Linked DNA regions of Homo sapiens: all the other regions are linked to region 3. The links come from fine-mapping of genetic effects on plasma protein levels. A gene starts in region 3. Each other region holds a variant in brackets. All regions are shown on one strand. Distances are from middle to middle. Region 1 overlaps CPM (carboxypeptidase M). Region 2 overlaps CPM (carboxypeptidase M). Region 3 holds the start of CPM (carboxypeptidase M).

The links. PIP is the chance, under the fine-mapping model, that this variant and not a neighbour inherited with it causes the effect. The UK Biobank Pharma Proteomics Project read protein levels with antibody pairs (Olink). The fine-mapping took linkage between variants from a reference panel, not from the people measured, so its PIPs are less certain.
Region 1: its variant is fine-mapped to the plasma level of the CPM protein (UK Biobank, PIP above 0.99). The variant lies in the coding sequence of CPM. If it changes the protein, the assay may bind it differently, which can mimic a change of level.
Region 2: its variant is fine-mapped to the plasma level of the CPM protein (UK Biobank, PIP above 0.99).

The regions. Positions count from the first base shown.
Region 1 is chr12:68,867,185-68,875,367 of GRCh38, forward strand. It overlaps CPM (carboxypeptidase M), which reads right to left. Exons shown (of 9, transcript NM_198320.5): 4 at 4,600-4,772; 5 at 3,031-3,215; 6 at 2,141-2,311. Among named protein-coding and RNA genes, the nearest start is that of CPM, 62 kb to the right of the region's middle. The variant T/C (reference allele first, on the strand shown) is at 3,207.
Region 2 is chr12:68,891,986-68,900,168 of GRCh38, forward strand. The region is part of intron 2 of CPM (carboxypeptidase M); the gene reads right to left. Among named protein-coding and RNA genes, the nearest start is that of CPM, 37 kb to the right of the region's middle. The variant G/GT (reference allele first, on the strand shown) is at 4,408.
Region 3 is chr12:68,929,881-68,938,063 of GRCh38, forward strand. It overlaps CPM (carboxypeptidase M), which reads right to left and starts at 3,291. Exons shown (of 9, transcript NM_198320.5): 1 at 3,262-3,291; 2 at 2,798-2,960. The coding sequence starts at 2,957. RefSeq lists silencers at 3,171-3,530, 3,561-3,670.

The DNA.
Region 1 (8,183 bases), 63 kb before region 3:
TCAGGGCTTGACATTCTATTACCCAGGCGTGACTAGACAATCCTAAATATTCCCATATGGGTAACTGGATCAGAGCTGACTGAAGTTCAACTGTGCATCAAAATTAAGTGACGGGTGAAGGAAGGGTCCTTTTTTGTTTTTATTTTTTGAAATCCTACATTACAAAAATGATTCTTTGAATTTCATTTCTTTCTTAAATTACATTTTACATGGATATAAGCTAGAATAAGATTCCTTTAAAATATTTCTACAAATCATTTATAAATACACTTACTAAGCAAAGCTAAGCATGCTAATTTGGGGGAATCATGGGCCAACATTCACTATTGCCAGGTACCATATGAAGTGCTTTGTATCAGCTCATTTAATCCTCACAGCAATTGCCCCTACTTTACAGATGAGGAAACATGATCACAGATGTTAAAGAAAAGTGCTCAGGGGTTTTGGCCAGTAAATGACAGACACTGGAGTGCAGGCCACCTTCCGCCAGCACCTGTGGGCTTCCCCAATATGCCAGAGTGCTCCTGGGGATCAAAGAAAGAGTGCTGCACTGCCTCTCAGAGGTGAACGGCCCGGCCCCCTGTGGAGCCCAGGCTGCCACTGCTCATGCTGACTTTCCAGTTCTCTCCTCTGGTCCCTTACTTTCAAAGGGTTTGTTTTAAATAGCAAAACAGGCAGGCATTATGGATCCCTAGCAGATAGCCAGAACTGAGAATGCCAAGCGTGGAGGGGGCAGTTCTGGATAAGGCGGGTCAGGCCTGGCCAACAAAACATCCAGGCCAGGCCAGGCACATTCTTCTGGGCTCCTCAAGGCAGCTGGCTTCACCTGTTTTTTGTCTGAGAAGGATACACAGCTCACACACAGGCACACTGGGGAACAATTCCCAGCAGCAACCGTTTCTAGCTAATTTCCTACACATCTGGATTTGCCTTCGAAAGTTAGACAGTGAACATGAAGGACAGCTCTGCCACTGGACAGGATGGGCCCTTTCTTAGCTACAAATTGTGGAGAGCAGGGACGATGCAGAAGCCCTAAGGTAGGAGAGGGGGCTGTATCTTGGACACCAGAGAGAGGTTTGGAATGCTGCCTGGACCTGTTGCCTATCAGTTGTGGTCTATGCTTATTTATATTACCAGGAAAACTGACAGAGAGCCACCCAGGCATAAAAATACCAGCTTGTGAAAGATTACCTGAAAGCCTGTGCATCCAAAGTGACAATTAGGGAAGGCACCTTTGGAAGTGGCCTGCACGCAGAAATGCATGCCGCAACTTGCTGTTGGTGGGGTCAGGCTAACGAGTCTAAAAGGGAATGTTTTCCCCTGAGGCATGGAAATCCAGTTCCAGTCCGTCTCTCCTCCTGTCCTTCCACCCTAGGTCCCTCCTACCCCGGGTTTCTGTTTATATTATTCCCTCTAATAAGAATATCTCTCCTTCCATGTTGCCTACATGACAATCTCATCCTGTCCCTTACCCGGCTGTCTTATTCCAAGATTGGAGAACTGGGGGCCCTCCTCCCACTGTATCCTGTCTGAAGAGCTCTTTTGTTGAGCCCGCAAAATGGCTTTAAAATCATGATACTTCATGTACAAATTCAGCTTCTCTTTACAAACTGCAAGATCTGGCAGTATTGGCTCCCCAAGGCTGCATGACAATAATTAGCTAGATCTAGTAGCAGCTGTCCCTGTTAGATGGGATGTAAGCATCACATTTCTCCAAGCTCTTCACTACTCCCTATTGTATTTTGGCTCTGTGCACCCTTGGGGTACACTGCACCTTCTCTAAATCTGTTTTTATTCTAATTGCACTGCTATCACAATTACTTATCTGCGTGTCTGTCTCCCCTATTCAACTCCAGGGTGAGGTGTGTGTCTTGTTCATCTTTCAGTTCCTGGCTCACAGTAGGCAGACACAGAATAAGTACCTGAATGAATGAAGAAGGCCCTTGGTAATGAGGAACATGTCTGAGCATCTCTCAAACAATCAGTCATCTCCACTGCTCTTATGATATTAGCTGATAAGGACAGAGTGAAGGGCCTATTGTGCCTAAAGTTCTTTTAACAACTGCTGGATCAAAATAAACCAGCTGGCACTTCTGGGTGAAGGCAATAAGGAGAATGGAAGAAATGAAGAGAAACTCACCTTGGAGTGGATACCAAGAGTATCCATTTGTAACACCATTAGGAAAGTTCATTTTGTTTTTACACTCGTCTCCTTTCTTCATGTTGGGATTTCTTGAAGCATAGGTATGTGCAAGATATTGAAAAACATCATCATCAGGCGTTAAGCTTCGGGAGTATAATGCCCCAGTTGCTGCATTTAAAAGATGAACCAAGACCTTTAAACTGACTTGAGAGTAAGAGGAAACACAAACACCATATTAGCAAAGACATAATCGCATCACACACACATGCTCTAATTTCCCTAGAGAGAAATCCTTCATCCACCTCCTCTATTCTTCTTTCTACTTTATAATAAACATATGCAAGGTGATAGCCCCCAAATAAGTCAGATACAAATCCAAACTCCTAAATCAGCTTAAAAATTAAGTGTCCTCTCAGTCACTCTTGCTAATTTCTGGAGGTAAGGACAATTTCTTTAGGTATTATAGGGGTGAATAAAGCTACTGTAATATTTTGGGTCCTCATCCCACAGAGTTTTAAGAAGAGTCAACAATTATTGTTCATATATGATTAGCAAAAAAAAAAGTGAGTTGTTCCAGTTTTATGTTATTTTAGCCATGTTGTCTCTTGTCAGAGAATCAAAATCTGACTATTTAGATTGTATTTTCTAGAATCTAAATTTCACTAATTCACTGATGCATGTCCAGCTGTGGGTTGTCAGTTCAGCCACACTGCCCATCTGCTGTTGAAGAATCACAGGAAGGATGGCTAGAGTTGGGAACATGAAGCTCTTTTCACCCTGCCAGAGAAGTTAAGAGGGGAAGGGAGAGCTGATCCCCATCCAGAGGCAGAGAGTTTTCAGCCCCACTCTGGACTTAAGAAGCCAGAACTGGACCCGCACCTGCTTACCTTGAACACCATTATCAAATGGGTAACTGGCCACGAGGGCACCACCATGGAGGTTTGCAGAGAGGACAAACGTCTCTGTTTTCAGCCACTTCATGACTGCCACAGTTTCAGGCTGCCTTGAGACATTATTATATTCAAAAGCATCGGGGAAATTTCGATTCAAGTCATACTGGTTA[T/C]AATTTTCCCTTTAAAAGAAAGAATATTTTAGGGCTTATTGATAGGGCATGAGGGAGTGGATTCTTACAGTGTCTTGCCCTTTGGTTTAGGCTCCAGGTGTCTTTCCAAACGTGAGTATGGGTGTGGTGGATGGCTGCCCTTGTGGCCTGCCATGACCCACACCTGGCACTTACATCCCATGGCATCCCCTGCCTCGTGATCTGCTCTCACCAATGAGATACTAGCTATTGTGATGCAGGCAGAGGTTTGATAAGTGTTTGTATTTGGGACTTCTGCTCTTAGATGCTCCCTTTTGGGACCTTGAGATCCCAATGGTCGCCACGTGGAGAGTCCACGGAGAGTCCATGGCTCCAGGTAAATTGTCTCAGAAAGACCAGAGCTGAGCCCCAGACCTGTGGCACGGACAGTAGCCATCCCTGCTCTGCCCTGCCCAAATTCCTGACCTATGGAATCAACAGTAAATAAAAAGGCTGTTGCTTTAAGTCGCTAATTTTGGGGTGGTTCGTTAAGTAGCAACTGATAACAGAAACAACACTAAACACATTACACAGAAGTACTTGTGAAACGTGGAACAGCCATGTTTAAATATATTTGAAAAACTTAAAATTGGAGGGAATCAAGTGGTGAGATTTTGTTCAGCTTTGGTAAAGCAAACACATATATGTAAATTGCATACATATGAATGTATATTAGACATCTGAGAAATTCCAAACCTCCCAAGGCAGCTTGAAACAAAATAAACTGTTTAAATCAGAGCTCCTTCAAGACCCGTTCTTGCTTATGGTTAGTTCTTGGACTACTGGCCTAATAAATCAACCGGTCATTACCAAGGGCCTGGGTGCTCTGCCAGGCACTGCGGATCTAACAACGACAAACACAATGGACAGGATTCCTGCCTGCAGGTAGCTTGCAGTGTAGTGGGGGGAGAGACATGAAGCAAGAAATTAGATATTAAAAGTTGTGCTCTGACAGTAAAGTGCCAGGTGATGTGAGAGTTTATCAGGGGATCTAGTGTATGACAGGTCGAGAGAAAGAGTCTTGGAGGAAATGCTATTTAGGCAGGGAAACGGTGTGTGTAAAATGCTGAGGTAAGAAAGCACCTGGTACTTCCAGGAAGGAGGCCTAGAGGGGAGGAGGCAGGGGAGAGAGAAGGAGTGGCAAATGAAGATGGAGAGGCTAGGTGGGCACCGGGGCAAAGTAGCCTTATTTGCATTTCTTCCTGCAAGCCGGAGGCAGCCCTGATGTGCCTTGAGCTTTGGCACATCAGCGACATGACACCGGCTCTGAGGGCTCTCACCATGACACATCTCCTCTTGCCAAGGCCAACAGGTGCCTGTCGGGAGCCTTTGTGTTGTGTTGTTTTCAAGTAAAGATAGACCAGCCCCTCTTTACCTTCCGATGCTGTAATAACAGTCAGGCTTTTTGACGGCTTCAAATCCATCTGGGTTCATGGAAGGCATGATGTGTATCCGGGTACTATTGATCAGATTTGTGATTTCAGGGTCTTTGCCATCACTGGTTACGAGATAGTCAATCAGATGGAGCAGCAGCTCCCGCCCAACAGTCTATATGTGTTAAAGAGAAAAGAGGACATTATTAGGTCAGAGGCAATAAGGAAAGCACTCCCTACGGTACAAATTCCCCAATAGGGGTCTCTACACATGATATCTCAGACCCAAACTAGTTTGTAAGATCACTCTTTCTCAAGCATGCTTATGCTCTGCCAAGTGGCCATCAGGTGGCGATCAGTCCTGAGGTATGCTGAAAAATGCTAGTAAGAGTGAAAGTACCTATTTGTAAATAGTTTACATATTGCAAAAATGAATTAGAGTGGAATAATGCTGCTGCTGCTGCTGCTTCCTTTTTTTTTTTTTTTTTTTGAGACAGTCTCAACTCCGTCACCCAGGCTGGAGTGCATTGGCGCGATCTTGGCTCATTGCAACCTCCGCCTCCTGGGTTCAAGCGATTCTCTTGCCTCAGCTTCCTGAGTAGCTGGGATTACAGGCGTGTGCCACCACGCCCAGCTAATTCTTGTATTTTTAGTAGAGATGGGGTTTCACTATGTTGGCCAGGCTGGTCTTGAACTCCTAACCTCAAGTGATCCACCTGCCTCAGACACCCAAAGTGCTGGGATTACAGGCATGAGACACTGCGCCCGGCCGCAATAATGATTCTTACAACATTTTTCATTTGGTTGCCTTCCAAAGTATCTTCTGGAGTGGGAGAGCAAGAGGTTGAGTTACAGAGAAGCACAGGAATCACGTATTTCCATGAGAATGCATGGTGCATATGAAGCTTATCATGTATGTATTGGTGGATAACAGACTTAAAATCATCACATTGTAGATTTTTTTTTTTTTAAGACAGGGTCTTGCTATGTTGCTAAGGCTGGCTTCCAACTCCTGAGAAACTTCATATCATTATCACTTTTCTAGATATATATTTCTAATATATATTAAGTAAAAGCATGACTATTAAAATGTTAAAAGCTGTCATATCCACCTAAATTAGCTTGCAGTATCAATAAGGCTTGGGAAACTGAAGGCCTGTGAGAGAACTTGCTTTATAATCCCTCCCCAGGAGAGAGAGTCATTATTTTTCTTATTTAAAAAAAGTAATTTAAATGTCAGCCTTATCATAGGAAGATCTGCTTAGACTACATCAAATTCTCCCTATCATTTTAGGTTCAAGGAATCTGCTTCAGAAGAACAGATGTTGTTGAGGGGTTAGTAAATGAGAACTCAGGGGCAGCAGGTGAGAAAATCAGGAGAGTGCTGCAGGCACATTCATGTAGACACTGTGCAAGAAAAGATTTCATGGAGCCTCAGAAGAATTTCCAGTCATGATTTCACTGTAGGACTTCAACATTGTGACAAAGGATAAGCGGTCCTTGGATGACCACTTCTCACTTGATTCCCTCACTGGCACATAAAGAGACCACATTTTAAACATTTGTTATCCTAATGAACACAGAATAATTGAAATTGGGACTAAGAAAATTTGGGGCTGGTGGCAGTGGCTCATGCCTGTAATCTCAGCACTTTGGGAGGCTAAGGCGGAGCCCAGGAGTTTGAGACCAGCCTGGGCAATATAGCGAGATCCCATCACTACATAAAATAAGAAATTAGCCAGGCATGGTGACACAGACCTATGGCCCCAACTACTCAGGAGGCTGAGGTAGGAGGATCGCTTGTGCTGCCCAGGAGGTTGAGGCAGCAGTGAGAAGAGATCGCACCACTGCATTCCAGCATGGGTGACAGAGTGAGACCCTGTCTCAAAAAAAAAAAAAAAAAAGAAAGAAAGAAAATTTGGGATATATGAATTATAGATTCATAGGCAACCATAAAATTTAGAGTCAGATTATGTCCAATCCTGACTTCAACTTTTTTTCCTACTCATTTTTTATCTTCCTCTTCCACTACCTTTTTTTTTGAGACAGAGTCTCACTCTGTCACCCAGGCTAGAGTGCAGTGGCACCATGTTGGCTCACTACAACCTCCGTCTCCTGGATTCAAGCAATTCTCCTGCCTCACCCTCCCAAGTAGCTGAGATTACAGGTGCCCACCAGCATGTCTGGCTAATTTTGATATTTTTAGTAGAGACAGGGTTTCACCATGTTGGCCAGGCTGGTCTCGAACTCCTGACCTCAGGTGATCTGCCTGCCTCAGCCTCCCAAAGTGCCGGGATTACTGTGTGAGCCACCGCGCCCGGCCAGATTTTTGTTTTTATAGTCAAAATTGTCACTGGAAAAAGTCCTTACAAGCTAATAACCAAAAAAGTCACTTGTACACCCCACTGGGTTCCAATTTTAAGATATAATAGGTTTTTGAAGGTCCAGCACCTTTGGAAGTAACCTTGATGAGCTACTTATGACCTCCCCTAAAGCCAGTGGGGAGGAGCTGGTAACATAAAACTGTGACAGTAACTTTAAATGTGAAAAGGGGCTGGGCGTGGAGGCTTAAGCCTGTAATCCCAGCACTTTGGGAGGCCGAGGTGGGTGGATCACCCGAAGTCAGGAGTTTGAGACCAGCCTGGCCAACATGGTGAAACCCCATCTCTACTAAAAATACAAAAATTAGCTGGGCATGGTGGCAGGTGACTGTAATCCCCACTACTCAGGAGGCTCAGGCACAAGAATCGCTTGAACCTAGGAGGCGGAGGTTGCAATGAGCCGAGATCGCGCCACCAGCTTGGGTGACAGAGTGAGACACACCATCTCGAAAAAAAACCAAAAAAATGTGAAAAAGATCGTTGGTTTAAGAAGCTTTCTCAGAAGGGTTTGGGGAGGAATAGGTACAGGAAGGTGAGGAGGAAGTGACCAGGAGTCCCATAGTTCCTTAAATGTCTAAATGCTGGTTAGAGGCCATAGTATGGTTCAATCGGCAAAAATCCCTGGCCTATCTGAGTCCCAAGTCAAGAACAGAGAGGAAGTGATATCAGAATCCCCATGTGACTCTAAATGTGAATTTGTCTCTTAGCTATCTGAATCATACACTCTCCAGCATGCAAACAATCACGACACGAGTTGGCAATGAAATTCACCCAACCGAAAGAAAGTGAAAAGGAAGAGTAAAGAAACCATGATTAGGAGGCTAGGTTGAGTTGGTATTCTGTTAGATACAGAATTAGATTAAGCAGTCTTGGTAGTATGGGTATAGAACAAAATATAAAAGTTGAGGCCGGGCACGGTGGCTCATGCCTGTAATCCAAGCACTTTGGGAGGCTGAGGTGGGCAGATCACCTGAGGTCAGGAGTTGGAGACCAGCCTGGGCAACATGGTAAAACCTCGTCTCTACTAAAAATACAAAAATTAGCCGGGCATGGTGGTGGGCACCTGTAGTCCCAGCTACTCGGGAGGCTGAGGCAGGAGAATCGCTTGAACCTGGGAAGCAGAGGTTGCAGTGAGCCGAGATTGTGCCATTGCACTCCATCCAGCCTAGGCAACAGAGCAGGACTCCACCTCAAAAAAAAAAGAA
Region 2 (8,183 bases), 38 kb before region 3:
CTTGGCCTCCCAAAGTGCTGGGATTACAGGCGTGAGCCACTTCACGCGGCTGGAAATCTACGTTTTAATAAGCTCTCCAGGTGATTCCCAGTCACCTGAAAGCTTAAGAACCACTGTAACAAAGGACAAGACTGGGTAGTCTATCCGTGGAGTCCCTGCTCTGTTCTTAACCACTATGCTGTACTGCTAATCACCTCAGAGATGGAAAATGGAAAACATCAAAGAAAAAACATCAAAGAAAAACAAAAGAAACGTGAACGTGTGAAGCAAGCTTGCTGTGTACTGGCTTCTGTTGTTGAGGTTATTGTCTGTCTCCCCTCTGGGGAGAACTGGAAATGGAAGGAGGGAGTCGAGGGGCACAATGAGGATGGTTTGAGAAGTGATGGCTATTGTTTGCTGCCTTGGTTTTATTTGATTAGCTGGTACATCCCAAATTGCTCTCCATTTAAGGACTACAGGTGAGCCTTAGTCACTCTGCCCCAGAGCTGTGGAATGTGGAGTAGCTGCACTTCTGGGATCAGGCTGCTAGGTGTTCTCCCTGCACTCAGTTTGAATGCTAGTCAGCAAATAGGCTAAGAAAGTAGGGTAGGTAGGCCGGGCGTGGTGGCTCACACCTGTAATCCCAGCACTTTGGGAGGCCAAGGCAGGCGGATCACCTGAGGTTGGGAGTTTGAGACCAGCCTGCCTAACATCGCGAAACCCTGTCTCTACTAAAAATACAAAATTAGCTGGGCGTGGTGGTACATGCCTGTAATCCCAGCTATTCGGGAGGCTGAGGCTGAAGAATCCCTTGAACCCAGGAGGCGGAGGTTGCACCATTGCACTTCAGCCTGGGCAACAAAAGCAAAACTCGTCTCAAAACAAACAAAAAAACAAACCGAAAAGAAAGTAGGGTAAGCACGTTCTCACTCATAAGTGGGAGTTCAACAATGAGAACACATGGACACAGGGAGGGGAACATCACACACCTGGGCCTGTTGGAGGGTTGGGGGCAAGGGGAGGGAGAGCATTAGGACAAATACCTAATGCATGCAGGGCTTAAAACCTAGATGACAGGTTGATAAGGTGCAGCAAACCACCATGGCACATGTATACCTATGTAACGAACCTGCATGCTCTGCACACGTATCCCAGAACTTAAATTAAAAAAAAACAAAAACTGACAAAAAAAAAAAAAGACAGTAGGGTGGCTGGACTGGCAAGGGAAGGAAAGACGTGGACAAAATCCATTTGTACCATACACACCCTGTCTCTGGGACACACACCTTTTTTCATGGCAAACCACCTGGCATGCACTGCGATTTCTGTAGAGTTTCAGGTTTGGGCCAGTCCACATGAACACCCAGTCTGTTTCTGAACTCGCAAAGCTGAGAGCCTGTACAGATGTGATGCCCTCTAGCCTGCCCCAGGTCAGCCACAGGATCCCAATGAAGCTTAACTGTCATATTCTGTGTAGTGGGCTGGGAATTCCTGACTTTGTTTATGGACAGGGGAACCTGTCAAGGAAGGGTCTCAGGGAGTCAGGTGTCCCAGGGGTCTTGTGCTGCTGTGATAAGAGTAAGTGCTCTATTCTGCTCTGAAGTAATGAAGGGGCTGGGCTATTTCTTCTGCCTAGGTCAATTCTAAAGTCTACTTAGAGCCATGAGTTTTGCAGTTCAGTTTAATATGGGAATGAGAGGAACACAGAAGGCTTCCCTGTTTAGGCTTCCCAAAATGGAATGAGAAATAGGCAGGCATTTGACTCCAACTTCTGCTGCACTGGAATTTCCCGTTGCACAGATTCTGGTGTGGGGTCTAAAATGAGGCCACCTGCTGTGTTAGTATAACCCTGGGCCTTGTTGAGGTTGTGGAACTCAGTGGTCCCCAGGGGTTCTGCGTGGATCTGGGAACCATGTCCCCTGCACTTTTCTCTCTGGCCAACCTCTTTGGGCCCAGCATTCCTGGCTCTTCTAACTGATTGCCTGGACAAGGAAGCTTTACTCAGTGGAGTATGCTAACCCTGCAATGGCACTCTGAGGGTAGGGTGTGGAGCGCTGGTTGTTACCAGGGACTACCTCATGCTCACCAGTCTTCACAGCTGTCTTGTCCTCCACCCCACCCCTTGGCTGCACCACCACCACCACTGCCACCATATACACCCTAGTCACTCTCTAATCCTGTGTCATCTTTCTTCACAACTTTTTCACTCTTTGAGATTGTATATTTGTTTATCTATATACTATCTGTCTCACCAAAATGTAACCCACAAGGGCACTGCCTGGTGTGTTCACCATTTTGTTTAGGTTGCTGGTTTTGTTCACTGCTAACCTAACGGTGCCTGGCGCACTGTAGGTTTCAATTAGTATCTACTGTAACATTTCAAAAATTATTGGTGTATCTCCAGGACTGCGTTTTCTTGATAAATATTGGCACATAACATCCAGAGTCTTCCCTCGGTGTTCAGGGTCCTCCATCACCTGCCCTCCACCCGAATTTCCCACTACCTGCTAACACAAATGCGCCCACAGGAGGCAGGTTCCTTTCTGCACCCTAGTACCCTAGGCACAGCCCCACCTTATTTACATTGTTTTAGCTTAAAATGGCTTCATTGGATTTTCTGCCTTTTAAAATCCTCTGAATTCCACAAAATCCTGGTTCTAAGAAGTTTCCCCAGGCTGCTCTGACTCACCTGGGTTTTTCTCTCTTCAGAATATTTCTATAAAGTGGCATCCTAAGATTTGTCACTGTGAAGCATTCTGCCTTGAAGTTAGTTTTCTAAGGGTGTCACGGCCAGGTGTGGTGGCTCATGCCTGTAATCCCAGCACTTTGGAAGACTGAGGAGGGCAGATCACTTGTGGTCAGGAGTTTGAGACCAGCCTGGCTAACACAGTGAAACTGTCACCACTAAAAATACAAAAATTAGCTGGGCATGGTGGTGCGTGTAATCCCAGCTACTTGGGAGGCTGAGGCATGAGAATCACTTGAACCTGGGAAGTGGAGGTTGCAGTAAGCCGAGATCGCACCGCTGCACTCCAGCCTGGGTGACAGAGCGAGACTCAGTCTCAAAAAAAAAAAAAAAAAAAAAAGTTTCATGTGGCCAAGTCTTGATTTCATAAAAATATTGTCATATTTTCCTTTTGCTCCCCTGCTGTGTCTACCAGGTAAATCATGGCCATTCCCTAAGGCCCAGGTCATCTTCTTAGTAAAGACCTCAGTGGTGGGTTGTATTATTGGTTGCCCAACATCTGGTGCCCTAATGAACTCAGGCATATCATGTGACCTGCTCTGGCCAGTGAAATGTGGGCAGAAATGGTAATGTACCACTTCTGGGCAGAGCTTTAAGGGCTGATGCATGATTTGCCATCTCCTTTCCCTCTGACATAAGACAGGCAATGATTGGATAGAGGGTGCTCTGTCAGCTTCGGTCCTGGAGGGAAGGTGACAGGGAGCAGAGTCACAACTGTTCAATAATGGACATATGAGTGACATCTAAATCTTTATTTTTCTGTTATAAGCCATAGCAATTTGTGGGTCTTCTATTTCTGCAGTACAGTCCAGCCCTTTTCATATGACACTGCTTCCATAACCAACCCAAACCAAAATGACTTTCCCTCTAGTGAGTGTTCATTATACTTATTGCTGATACCTGTGCTTTTTCAGATAGGGGTTCCCAGAACCATAAAATTTTGTGGAGGTGGCCCAGAAGTAAAGAAATCTTAGAAAATGTGTTTTAGGCCAGACACAGTGGCTCACGCCTGTAATCCCAGCACTTTGGGAGGCCGAGGCAGGTGGATCATTTGAGGTCAGGAGTTCTCTGCAAAAAGTACAAAAATTAGCTGGGTGTGGTGGTGTGCCATGAATACACTCATTTCTATTTCTGACATCACTTTCATGCTTTGACAAAATGAAGTCCAAATGAAAACATGTTGTTGAGTAAACTTTCCTTTGTTTGGGTGATTGATCATATGTGAACTGGATCCCATGGCTCTAACTGCTTTTCCTTCAATGACTCCCCATGGCATTGAGATGGCACCTGATCCCCTCAGCATGCACACCAGACCTCTTGGGATCTGTCTTCTTCCTGCCTTGGGTTTCCCACCCCAATCCCATACACCAGGCCCTAGCCATTCTTCTTTATGTGTAGTTCCCAAAGGAGGTAACTCCCTGCCTTGACACCTTTAATACCTGCTCTTTCTTCTGCATGGATAGTCCTTAGCCCACCCCATCAAAGCGGCCAACCTCCCCTTGCCTTTTCAAGGCTCAGCTAAAAGCCTCCTGCCATCCAACACCTTCCTGATCCTTCTGCTCAGCCCCATCCCCTACCACCCTAAGTTAGATGCTTCCTTTGAACTTTCATAGATAGTACCCCTGCAACCCCTCTCCTATCATTTATTGAAACCAAAGGTTTTCCTGCAAGCAAGGGATTTT[G/GT]TATCTCTGTGCTTGCAAAATCTGGTGTAGTGTCTGGCATATACATAGCAAATGATTGATAAATGTTTGCTGAGTGAATGGATGATTGGATAAATTAACAAACAAACCTGAGGAAGCTCACTTGGAGTCCGAGTCACCTTTGGTCCGGGGATTAGATGAAACTGTTTTCCAGTATTGATGGAAAAGTCCATAGTTAGTCTATGAGGTGCCATCCTGGGTGGGCTCTGGAAAGAACCCAGTTTTCTAGATCAAATCAAGAGTCAATGCACCTTCTTGGAATATTTCCATGCAAGAAAGTGCCAAGATCCAAACCAAATGTCTGGTTTCAAGTTAGATTCTTCCAACATTATGGGGAGATAGAGTTGCATTTGCTTACATGTTCATCCCCATAGTATTAAAGTTTTGATATTATACCCAAGAAATGTAGATGTTAGGTTCCATTTCATTTCTTCCTGAATAGGTGAATGGGGAGGTTTGGGAATTTCAGTTCCTAAATTAGGGACAGTTACGTTTTTAATTGAAAAAAAAAAATAGAGGAAAAATCTGAAGCTGCATTGGGTTGCAATAAATTTTCTTTTTTTTCTTCAAGACAGTCAAGACTCCCAGAGAAACAGAACAGCTTGTCTCATTAATCACTAACCATCAACAAAAAACAGGAAGACGGTAGGAAATTCCTCTGCCTTTCTCCTCTTGCAACCCCACCTTCTCTATTCCTCCCACTCCATTCCCAGGTCAGAGACTCATAAACCTGTCCTGCTTCCTCTAAACATTTAAATTTTTAACCTATAAATTATAAGACATTTTTAAGAATGGAGTTTTAAAAACTGGACATAATTATCATGCCCCAATCATTATAATTCTTCCATGTTCCCCTTTAGGTTTTTTTTTTTTTTTCCTCCATATAGCTACAGGAAACTTGTTTTTAAATCCCCAAAGTGAAAACCTCTAGGGACCTCATACTATAAAAAGCTGAGAACTTCCCTTTTTGGTCCCTTGAGGAAGAGGTCAAACATAACCAGATCATCTTTTTGAAGGACAATTCAGCTGTACTAAGAGCGAGATCGAGCATTACCTTAAAGTACAAATGAATACTTAAAGAGATTTCTTGGCCAAGGTGGGCAGATCACAAGGTCAGGAGTTCCAGAGCAGCCTGGCCAATATGGGGAAACCTCGTCTCTACTAAAGTTACAAAAAATTAGCCGGGCGTGGTGGTGTGTGCCTGTAATCCCAGCTACTCAGGAGGCTTGGGCAGGAGAATCGCTTGAACCCGGGAAGCAGAGGTTGCAGTGAGTGGAGATCGTGCCATTGCACTCCAGTCTGGGTGACAGAGCGAGACTCCGTTTCAAAAAAAAAAAAAAAAAAAGGCACAATCATTACAACTAGCACTATACAGTTATTGTCCATTTGAGGTTTCTTTTTTTACAGTATGTCATGGACATTCCGGTTCAGTGTTGAGGTTTTGTTTCTTGCTGCCCTATTGGTCTCACTCCGTCAGCCAGGCAGGAATGCAGTGGTGCAATCATGGCTCACTATAGCCTTGACCTCCCAGGGCTCAAGTCAGCCACCTCAGCCTCCTGAGTATCTGGGACTACAAGCATGGACCACTACGCCTGGCTAATTTGTGTATTTTTTTTTTTTTTTTGTAGAGATGGGGTTTTGCCATGCTGTCTAGGCTGGTCTTGAAATCCTGAGCTCAAGCAATCCACCCACCTCAGCCTCCCAAGATGTTAGGATTACGGGCATGAGCCACTGTGCCTGGCCTGGTGTTCTTATTTGTTATGAGTGCCTGCAGGTGTCACAGAGCTGTAATTTAAGAAGAGGTTAATTCAGACCCCTTTTGACCCCAGAAAAGACAGTTTGTTGGAGGTCTGCACAGCCCTATTGTCTATTTATTGCTACCATAAGAACTCATCCTTTAGTGGCAAGGAATAATGGCAATTAATTTACTAGTTTCCCCATAAGCTACTGTGGAGAAGAAAGGCTTTTCTTTCAGTCATCCTACTTCCTGAGTTTTACCCTAAAAAGCTCTCATTCTAAAGTGAAGCAAGTGAGAGTCCAGAGTGAAGGATGCTTAGCTCCCAATAGCAGGAGAGGCCTTGAAGTTACCAAAATTAGGTTCCCTAACCGGAACATTTGGTGGATTAACAAAGGTGGACTACTTCTCACTAGTATCACTGTTTTGAGATTTAAATCTCAAAAATAGATCAGTAGTTTAGTAAAGACATCAAAACCAGCATTGAGCAGCACGTCACCTGCCTGAACACAGCATGTGAGATGAGATGATATACAGTATCCTCTTCAGGGCATCTGACATAATGATGAAATGTGCAGGTTCCAGAATCAAAGTGTCAGAGCTAAAACCCAGCTCTGTCACTTACTAGCCATGTGGTATTGGGCAAATTGCTTAATCCCTCTAAATGAATCAGTTTCCTCATCCATATTATGGGATTAACGGTACTTACCCTCATGGGGTTGTTGTGCTATCTCATTTAATTCTTACAAGCTTTAAAAATAGTGCCAGAAACATTGTAAGCACGTGTTTGTTTGAGGGCCTCAGGTGTACAAATTGGCTGATGACAAACTACTGGCCCTAGCAGATGATGTAGTATCAGACCAATTAAAGACAAATTTTCAATATAAACAGTGTACATAACATAGGGATAGACTGCCAATTTGTTATGCCAAGAGACAGCAGAAATGTATGTGCCAGAAGATCTGCACATCAGGTCAAATAGACTACCACTCACTGAAGTTAAAAAGAAAACTGGAGTGTGGATTCAGAAAGTGGAAGGGGCTATTTTGAGAGAACATGTCCTTCAAAATGTATTAGCACAAAAACTGTCACAAACATTCACACCACCAAGCATCAGGTAAATTACTTTTTCAACTCCAAGGACTGAATCTCATTCAGAATTCCCAGGCCCTAACAGCAGAGGACAGTGCTGAACTGGGAAGCCGCATGTTGCCATGAGGGCAGGGCAGAAAGCCAAGTCACCTCTGTTAACTGTGTTGAATCATTAACCATAAACACATTTTTCACAACATTTTCTTTCATGGCCTGTTCTCAAAATTATTGAGGACATCGTGTAGATTTTGACTATCTCAATGTTAATGAGCCTGGAAAGCATGTTAAGAATTTCCAGTCTGGTGCTGTCATGGAGAGACTCCAACTCATCACTGTAAGAGGGCAAGCCAAGAGCTTGTAGACAAGGAAATGGTTCATTAGGAATCAACCAATGACATAAAATTGGTTCAATATGAATCGGTCAATGCCAAAAAAAGGCAGGGGAACTGTCCTAGATTGTGAGACTGTAGACGATGGGTGAGCCTTGCTTGATTTGATTCTGGGAACTACTGGAGAACTTTAAAAATGCAGTATGTTGTTGGATATTACTGAGTTATTATTTTTAGTTTAATAATGATGTGTCATGATTAGGCAGTAAGAAGTCATGCTTAGGAGATGCATATTGGTGTTTTTTGGGATGATGTGACATGCCATTTATCACTTCTAATGGTTCAGTAAAATCAACAGATGGAGCTCATGAGAGAGATAAAGCAAATGTGGCAAAATATTAACAACTGGTGGATGTATATGAATAATGTGTGAGTGCTTATTTTACTATTTTTGTATTTTTTTCTATAGGACTGAAAATTTTCTAAATAAAAAGCTGGAGGGATCAAGAGAATGAAAAGGTAAGCCACAGACTTGGAGAAAATGTTTGCAAAAGACATGTCTGATGAAAGAGTTATCCAAAATACAGAAAGAATTCTGAAAA
Region 3 (8,183 bases):
TATAATCCACAATTACAACAAAGAAAATATGTGATATGCATATATTTACATAGGCATAGCACATATATTTAAGTTTTTACAAAAACTAAACATGTATTTAGTTACTTAGGAATATTACTTTCCCTTCTGGGTAAGACTGCCCACGTTAATACATGTAATATAAATAAATAAATAAATAACACGTGTATAATAAATTCTGTTTATTTTCTTTTATTTTGAGATAGAGTTTCACTCTTGTCACCCAGGCTGGAGTGCAGTGGCATGATCTTGGCCCACTGCAACCTCTGCCTCCTGGGTTCACGCTATTCTCCGGTCTCAGCCTCTCTAGTAGCGGGAACCACAGGTGCACACCACCATGTCTGGTTAATTTTTTGTATTTTTAGTAGAGACAACGTTTCACCATGTTGGCCAGGCTGGTCTCAAATTCCTGACCTCAGGTGATCCTCCCGCCTCGGCCTCCCAAGGTGCTGGGATTACAGGCATGAGTCACTGGGCCTGGTCATAAATTCTGTTTTCTAAGCAAACTTATCTTACATCAGAGGGCAGAATGGTTAGGGAAAATATCTAGTGAAAAAGACCACCAACAAAGGAGCACCATCTCTCAATTGTCACACTAATGTGCAGTGACACTTTGGCAACTGACTCCCAGTTACTGGCATACAGTTTCATCTACCAGTTGGAGCCAAATGGCAGATTTGGGATTTTTCTTAATCCGAGTTATTATTCAGAACAACATATTCAACACAAATATTTAACCACTAGTGTCAGATTTTATTTTTACATGATAACTCCTCAAGCCTTTAACCGCAAGAGTGCATACAAGGTAAAATTAAAAACAAAATTAAGCCTGCTGACTTTCACTGTGATTGTGGTTTGATATCATGCAGGATAGATCACAACTGCTGATTCATATTAGGAAAGAGAGCCCCCAACTGTCACAAGCACATTGTGTTTGAAAATACAAAACCTTACCAAATCACTTAGTACTTAAAATTAACAACATCCTCATCATCTTGTGGTTGAAATGATGACTGAACAATAACTCAAGCTAGTTGTGTTCTATATATTTTTAATTAATATAATTAGTATTCCTAGATCTTTTTAAATTGCTCTACTCTAGCCCTAGGGAAAAATGATTTCAGAAGGCTGAATACGTATGCTGATTCAAGATATGATTTCTCACACACCCAACCTCTATAATTTTGGATTATAGAGCAATATAGAGTAATTCTGGCACCATCTCTTTGGCAATGCTGTTTAAAAACAAAGTTACTATTACACACAGCCCAGGATATTGACTTCGCATTGCACATAAATACATTTATATAATACTTTTTCTTTAATATAGAAGCCATAGCCTTGATTTTTTTGAAAAATGATGAAGAATATGGTAATTATGAGACTCTCAATTGACTCAAAAGTTCAGAGCTAAAATCAAGGTAGAGTTTGAACACACCTTACAAAAAGTTGAGATCCAAATTGCATAAAATTTATGAAACTTTTGATTTAAGGACTAAGTTTTCTGGTAACCTCTTTGGGAACATCAGGATAATAAAAGATGATTAAGTAATAATGGTATCTCGGCCGGGCACGGTGGCTCATACCTGTAATCCTAGCACTTTGGGAGGCCGAAGCAGGAGGATCACAAGGTCAGGAGTTTGAGACCAGCCTGGCCAATATGGTGAAACCCCATCTCTACTAAAAATACAAAAAAATTAGCCAGCTGTGGTGGCGCATTCCTGTAATCCCAGCTACTCGGGAGACTGAGGCAGGAGAATTGCTTGAACTCAGGAAGCCGGAGGTTGCAGTGAGCCGAGATCACGCCACTGCACTCCAGCCTGGGCAACAGAGCGAGACTCTGACCAAAAAAAAAAAAAAAAAAAAAAGAAAGAAAGAAAGAAAGAAAGAAAGATGAAATAACGATATCTGATCAAATTATTTGCCTTGGCCGGATGGGTGCCAGTCCTGGCTATAAAATTCACCATCTGGGAGACCTTGAACAAATTATTTAATTTATCTGATTCAAACTTGCTGTCTATAAAAATGAAAATAACTTTATGTAGTTTCTAACTTAGAACAATAAATTATTAATGATAAATATGAAAATGCTGGGAAGAGTTTCAATCACTACTAATATATATTCATTATCTAGCATTGTCTTCTTCAAATGGATACATTTTAAAAACAGCCTTTAATCATAGAACCACTTTTTTGCATAACTTTAAGCCATAGGGCTAATTATACACGACACAAATCTAACCAACAGAACTGTACTACTTAGATTAAAAGAAACTTGCAGAAATGATAGTTTTGCATAACTTTAAATAAAAGGCTAACTACAGATGACACAGAAATCTTACCAACAAAACTGCATTATTTCAGTTTAAAAGAGACATGAAGAAATGACATTAACAGTCCAAGTCATATATAAAGAAGCCCACACAAAGGGGAACTGAAACGGATAAACGGACTTACTTGGGAGTTTATCTTGAAAAGGAACTAAAACATACATCCCAAATAACCAATGTCTGCAAGATCCAAAAAGACAGAAGAACTCCAATAATGGAAAGGACTCAGTGACACTGAATTACAATGGACAAGTCCAGTAAAATTCAGTTCTTCCTACTATTCCTCCCAACAAAAGCAGAAAACAACCAACACGCACGGTACCGGTTGACTTGTTCTGTGCCACTCAGAGTAGGTGCGTGGAAGAGCAGACAGGAAGCTGGGGCATATTTAATGAATACTGAAAGGGAGGACTGAGGGTTTGGCAAAGTGTTCACGAGACGGACCCTACCTTTCACAGATTTCCCAATACTGTGTAAGTGAGTGACAGAACTGTAGTTTTGGGCAACAGTCTTCAAAAACGCTTCCATCCCTTCCTGGCGGTGGTAGTTGAAATCCAGCGCAGCTACCAAAGGCAGCAACAGCCCTAGCCAGAGGCACGGGAAGTCCATGTTCTAGAGATGAATAAAAATAAGAAGAACCTGAGAACACATGAGGGCAGGCGGGGGCATCACCAGCTACGTCTCGGTACTCCGGTCTCAGGGTCTCCCGACACTGACGCTCCCTGCCTCCTAAGGAGGCAAAAGCTGGAAGCAACACCTTCGGGAGTGAGCCGTGCAACCAGAGACCGGGAGCACGGGCAGCCTCGGTGCCCTCGACCCAGCCGCCCGCGCCTCCCTCTCCTCCTCCTCCTGGCGCCTCCGCCGTCCGGCAGCTGCCACAGCTGCGCCCGGCCCCGCGCACCCCCAGCCTCACCAGGTCCCAGGCGCGCACCTCTACCCACCCGCGGCCGCCCGGCGGGGCCGGGTGTTATAGCCCGGTCAGAGGGCGGGCGCGCCCGGGCCCCGCCCCCGGACGTCCCTCCGGCCCACTCCGGAGCCGCGCGGGTGCCTCCCGGGCGGGGCCTCAGCCGCCTTCGCACCTAGGAGAGACGGCGCCCGCGCGGTGCGCCCTTTCGTGGCGCGGCTGCTGGTGCCCGCGGCCGGGCGGCTGAGCTGGGCGGAGGGCTGCGGGCATGGAGTCGCCGCTCGCGGACAGTCTTTGCTGGAGCCCCAGGTCAGAAGTGTGTCCTCGCCTCGGCCACGGCTGTAGCCTGGGCAGCCACAGGGCGCTCCACCGAGGGACACTCTCTGTCGCAGACTGCAGCCGCTTGGGAGACGTTTAGGGCTCGGCGGGTTTCCTGCGGTTGGCGGTGCCGGGGCCCACCTGGAGCCGGGACGCATGCGGAGTCCTGAGTGCCCTGAGCCCCGCGCGGGCTCCTGCGGGACGGGCGGCGTCGGCCCCGGCAGGGCGAGCCAAGCTCCCAGCAGTGCCAAGCTGCCCAGCGAGGCTAAGCAATCACGGGGCTTCGAGAAAGAACGCGCGCGTGTGTGGAAGTTTTAAATGCCACGAAGTGCAGAGTGCAGGACATTTTCCAACAAGTTTACATAGTGGGTGGGATTTGTGTAAATTAGAATTGAATTTAAAACTGGAAGTCACATCGAAGAAGGCAGGACCACTGTTGTAAATCCGATGCTTCCTCCACCTGCACCTGAGTCTTAGGCCAATTACAGGTCTCTCGTCCTAAAACGTCCTAAAATGCTCCTTTCTGGAAGGATGGCATGGTCTCTGCACGAGAGAGAACGAAGGCTTCACTCAAACCTGAGAGGTGGTTTGTGGCACGGGCCAACCCCCTCTACCTCTCTAAAAGATTCATTCTCATTCATTCTCTCTCTCTCCCCTCCCCCTCTCCCCTTCCCTCTCTCCCCCTTTCTCCCACTCTCTCCCGGATTGTAAGTAACCGTGTCAGGGTATTGGGGGCCCGTGTCAAGGTCCGCAGAATATAAAAAGTTTGAAAACCACTGATTTGAGATAACATTCCACTTTTACAGACTAAAAATACGGATGCAAGCCCACGACTAATTGAATAGAATTTTTCTCGTGGAGGCCCAAGAAAGTGTATTTTTAGAGAGGACCTTGAATGAATCTAATGTGCCTTCAAGAGCTGAGAACCGTTAGATTCCCTGCCCCTTCTTTCTTACAGATATAGATACTTTTCCTAGAATTGCGCACTCAGGACTCCCTGAGACTTCCAGTGATTCTGCCGCAGCATAGAAGAGTGGTTTAAGAACTGAGGCGCTCTGCCCTTGCGATAGTTTGCTGAGAATGATGGTTTCCAGCTTCATCCATGTCCGTACAAAGGACATGAACTCATCCTTTTTTATGGCTGCATAGTATTCCGTGGTGTATATGTGCCACAGTTGTGCACATGTGCCCTAGAACTTAAAGTATATATAAAGAAAAAAAAAGAACTGAGGCGCTCACGGGATGAGTGCCAATTCTTGCTCTGACACTCAGTGGCTGTGTCGACTCTGTGCCTTATTTTCTGGTGTGTAAAGTGGAAGTCTTAATTGTACCTACCTAAATAAGGTTGGCAGGCACATTGTAAGAACTGTGCGAAGCGTTTATTACATAAATAAACCAGCTTAATTCGTAACTCTTTAAAGGGAATTTTCCAAGAGTTGGAATTTTTTTTTTAATTTTTTATTTCTTTCTTTATTTTTTGAGATGGAGTCTCAATTCTGTTGCCCAGTCTGGAGTGCAATGGCATGATCTCGGCTCACTGCAACCTCCTCTCAGGTTCAAGCAATTCTCCTGCCTCAGCCTACCGAGTAGCTCGGATTACAGGCACCTGCCACCAGGCCCGGCTAATTTTTGTATTTTTAGTAGAGACGGGGTTTCACCATGTTGGCCAGGCTGGTCTGGAACTCCCGACCTCGGGCGATCTGCCTGCCTCGGCCTCCCAGATCGCTGGGATTACAGGCGTGAGCCACCGTGCCTGGCCATCTTTTTTTTTTTCTTAAAGAGAAGTTGTTTTATTGTTTGTTTGTTTGTTTGTTTGTTTGTTTGTTTTGAGATACAGTCTCACTCTGTTGCCCAGGCTTGAGTGCAGTGGTGCAATCTCAGCTCACTGCAGCCTCTGCCTTCCAGGTTCAAGCGATTCTTGTGTTTCAGCCTCTAACGTACCTGGGATTACAGGCACGCATCGCCACACCTACGTAACTTTTGTATTTTTACACCACACATGCCTAACTTCTGCATTTTTAATAGAGACCAGGTTTCACCATGTTGGCCAGGCTAGTCTTGAACTCCTGGCCTCAAGTGATCCTTCTGCCTCAGCCTCCCAAAGTGCTGGGATTACATGAGTGAGCCACCTTGCCTGGCCTAAGAGTTGGAAGTCTTAGTATGACATTGTAGAGTCTTTGAGTAGGTTTTTTTTTTTTTAATTGTGCAGTAGTCACTATGCTAAATGTTATTTCCACTGGAAGGGTTGAAGACGTTTCCCTTTCATTGTTGTTCATTGACTAAGAGGTCTGAGGAGGGGGACTGGAGCTTGAGAAGATTAAATTTAGGCAAAGTTACTCTAGGAATGGGAAAGGGAACTGGGTGGGAACAAAGTGAAGGCTTGCTGATGTACCTTAGAAATCCTATCTTTTTAAGAGAAGTACGTGGACACTATCTGATTTCCTGCAGGGTGCTGTGGCTGGAGACTGGAAGAAATGGTGGCTTCATCAATACTGGAATGGAGATTGCCAGGATTGTTGTTCTGGAAAAACAGAGATGAGCTATAGTTGAAATTGCTGCCATTGGGGTTCACACTAGGTAGGAAGGGAGGCAACTTCAGGAAGGAGTCAGAGAATGGAGGTAGGGGGTACAGAGGACTGAGTGCTGAAGGTTTAGGAGCTAGTAACTCAGAGTGCAGGCCAGGGACAGCACTGGCATCACCTGGGAGCTTGTTGGAAATGTAGAATCTGTCACTCCACTCCAAACCTACTGAATCAGAACACACATTTTAATAAGATTTCCAGATGATGTATATGTACATTCAAGTTTAAGGTGCACTGGTCAAGAGAGAAAAAAAAATTTAGTGTTAAGAGTATGAAAGATAACAGCAAAATAAAAGGTTAGCCTAATAGAGTAAAATACTGAAGTTTAGAGATTTTAGAGGTGATCTTCTTTCTTTCTTCTTTTTTTTTGAGATAGAGTCTTGCTCTGTTGCCCAGGCTGGAGTGCAGTGGCACAATTTTAGCTCACTGCAACCTCCACCTCCCGGGTTCAAGCAATTCTCCTTCCTCAGCCTCCTGAGTAGCTGGGATTACAGGTGCCCACCACCACGCCTGGCTAATTTTTGTATTTTTAGTAGAGACGGGGTTTCACCACGTTGGCCAGGATGGTCTCGAACTCCTGGCCTCAAATTATCTGCCTGCCTCAGCCTCCCAGAGTGCTGGGATTACAGGTGTGAGCCACCAGGCCTGGACCTAGAGGTGATCTTTCTAAGTATGGCACCATTAAAGGTAAAACCATAATAAAAAGGCTAATAATTTGAAAACATACAAATGTATGACTTCTGTACAGAAAACCTTATAAAGGTTATAAGAAGAAAGGTTTAAATCAGGTTATGAGAAAAATTACAAGCTGGAAGAAGGAATTAATGCTCTTACAAAATAAAGAATGAGCAAAGGAGATGAATAAGCAGTTCATAAAAGCAGTAACACAAATAGCTAATAAATATAGTAAAGGTTACCAACCTGGTAAGCAATCAAAGAATTACAAGTTAAAAGGGTAAAGTAATACTTTGTTTTGCTTATCACAAAGCAAGATTAAAAAGATTGACAATACCTGGAAGTAGACAGGATCTCAGGAAATGACATTTATGCTGTTTCAATGGTGTTCTAAATTAATACAATCTTTCTGGAGGGAAATCTGGGAATAGACATCAAAATTTTGTATGTGCCATTCCTTGCTAGAAATTTATGCTATAGAAGTAATTTGAAGATGTGTTGAGTTTGTATATGTTAGGAGCTTCATAAGTGCTGCTGCTTTAAATTGTGACAAAGTAGATAAAACCTAAATGTCAAACAACAGCAGATTGGTTAGATCAGTGGTTCTCAACTTGAGGCAGTAGTGCCCACAGCAGACATTTGGCAATATCTTGAGACATTTTTGATTGTCATAACTAGGGATGGGAGCTACTGGCATCTAGTGCTGATACAGAGGGCAGGGAGGCATTAAATATCCTTCAGTGCACAACACAGCCTCCCACAACAAAGAATTATTCAGCCCAAAATGTCAATAGTGCTGAAGTTAAGACACCCTGGGTTAAAGAATATTATAGCTGTACAATTAATTGTTTTTCAGCCATAATAATGTCAATGTAGATCTGCATTTATTCACTTGGAAAGACAAATTGTTCAGGCAAGAAGCAGATAATAAAAGTAAAATAAATAGTAAGATCTCATTTAGATAAAGCAAACAAAAAAAAACTATTCCCAGCAATGTGTTTCTAAGGTTACCAACATGCTGAGTGCAAATCCACGAGTTGCAATGTTTTAATTTTCTTTTTTACATCTTTCTGTATTTTCTGAAAAGTTTTTCCACCAAACATGCATTGCTTTTTTAAATTGGAAAAACAATGAAGGCATTTTAATTTAAAAGCAAAGCAGAGGAAAAAGCACAAAAGTGTTAGAGAGGACCAATGACTAATTCTGAATGAAAACAGGATCAAAATATCTTAGAGTGAATTACAAAAGTGAAGAGGAGGTAAAGATCACTGGAAATGGGAAATTAAGGAATGAAAAAGCCAGAGTGTTGGATTGGTTCTGTTTAAGGACTCTGAATTTCCCTAAGATAGTAGCAGG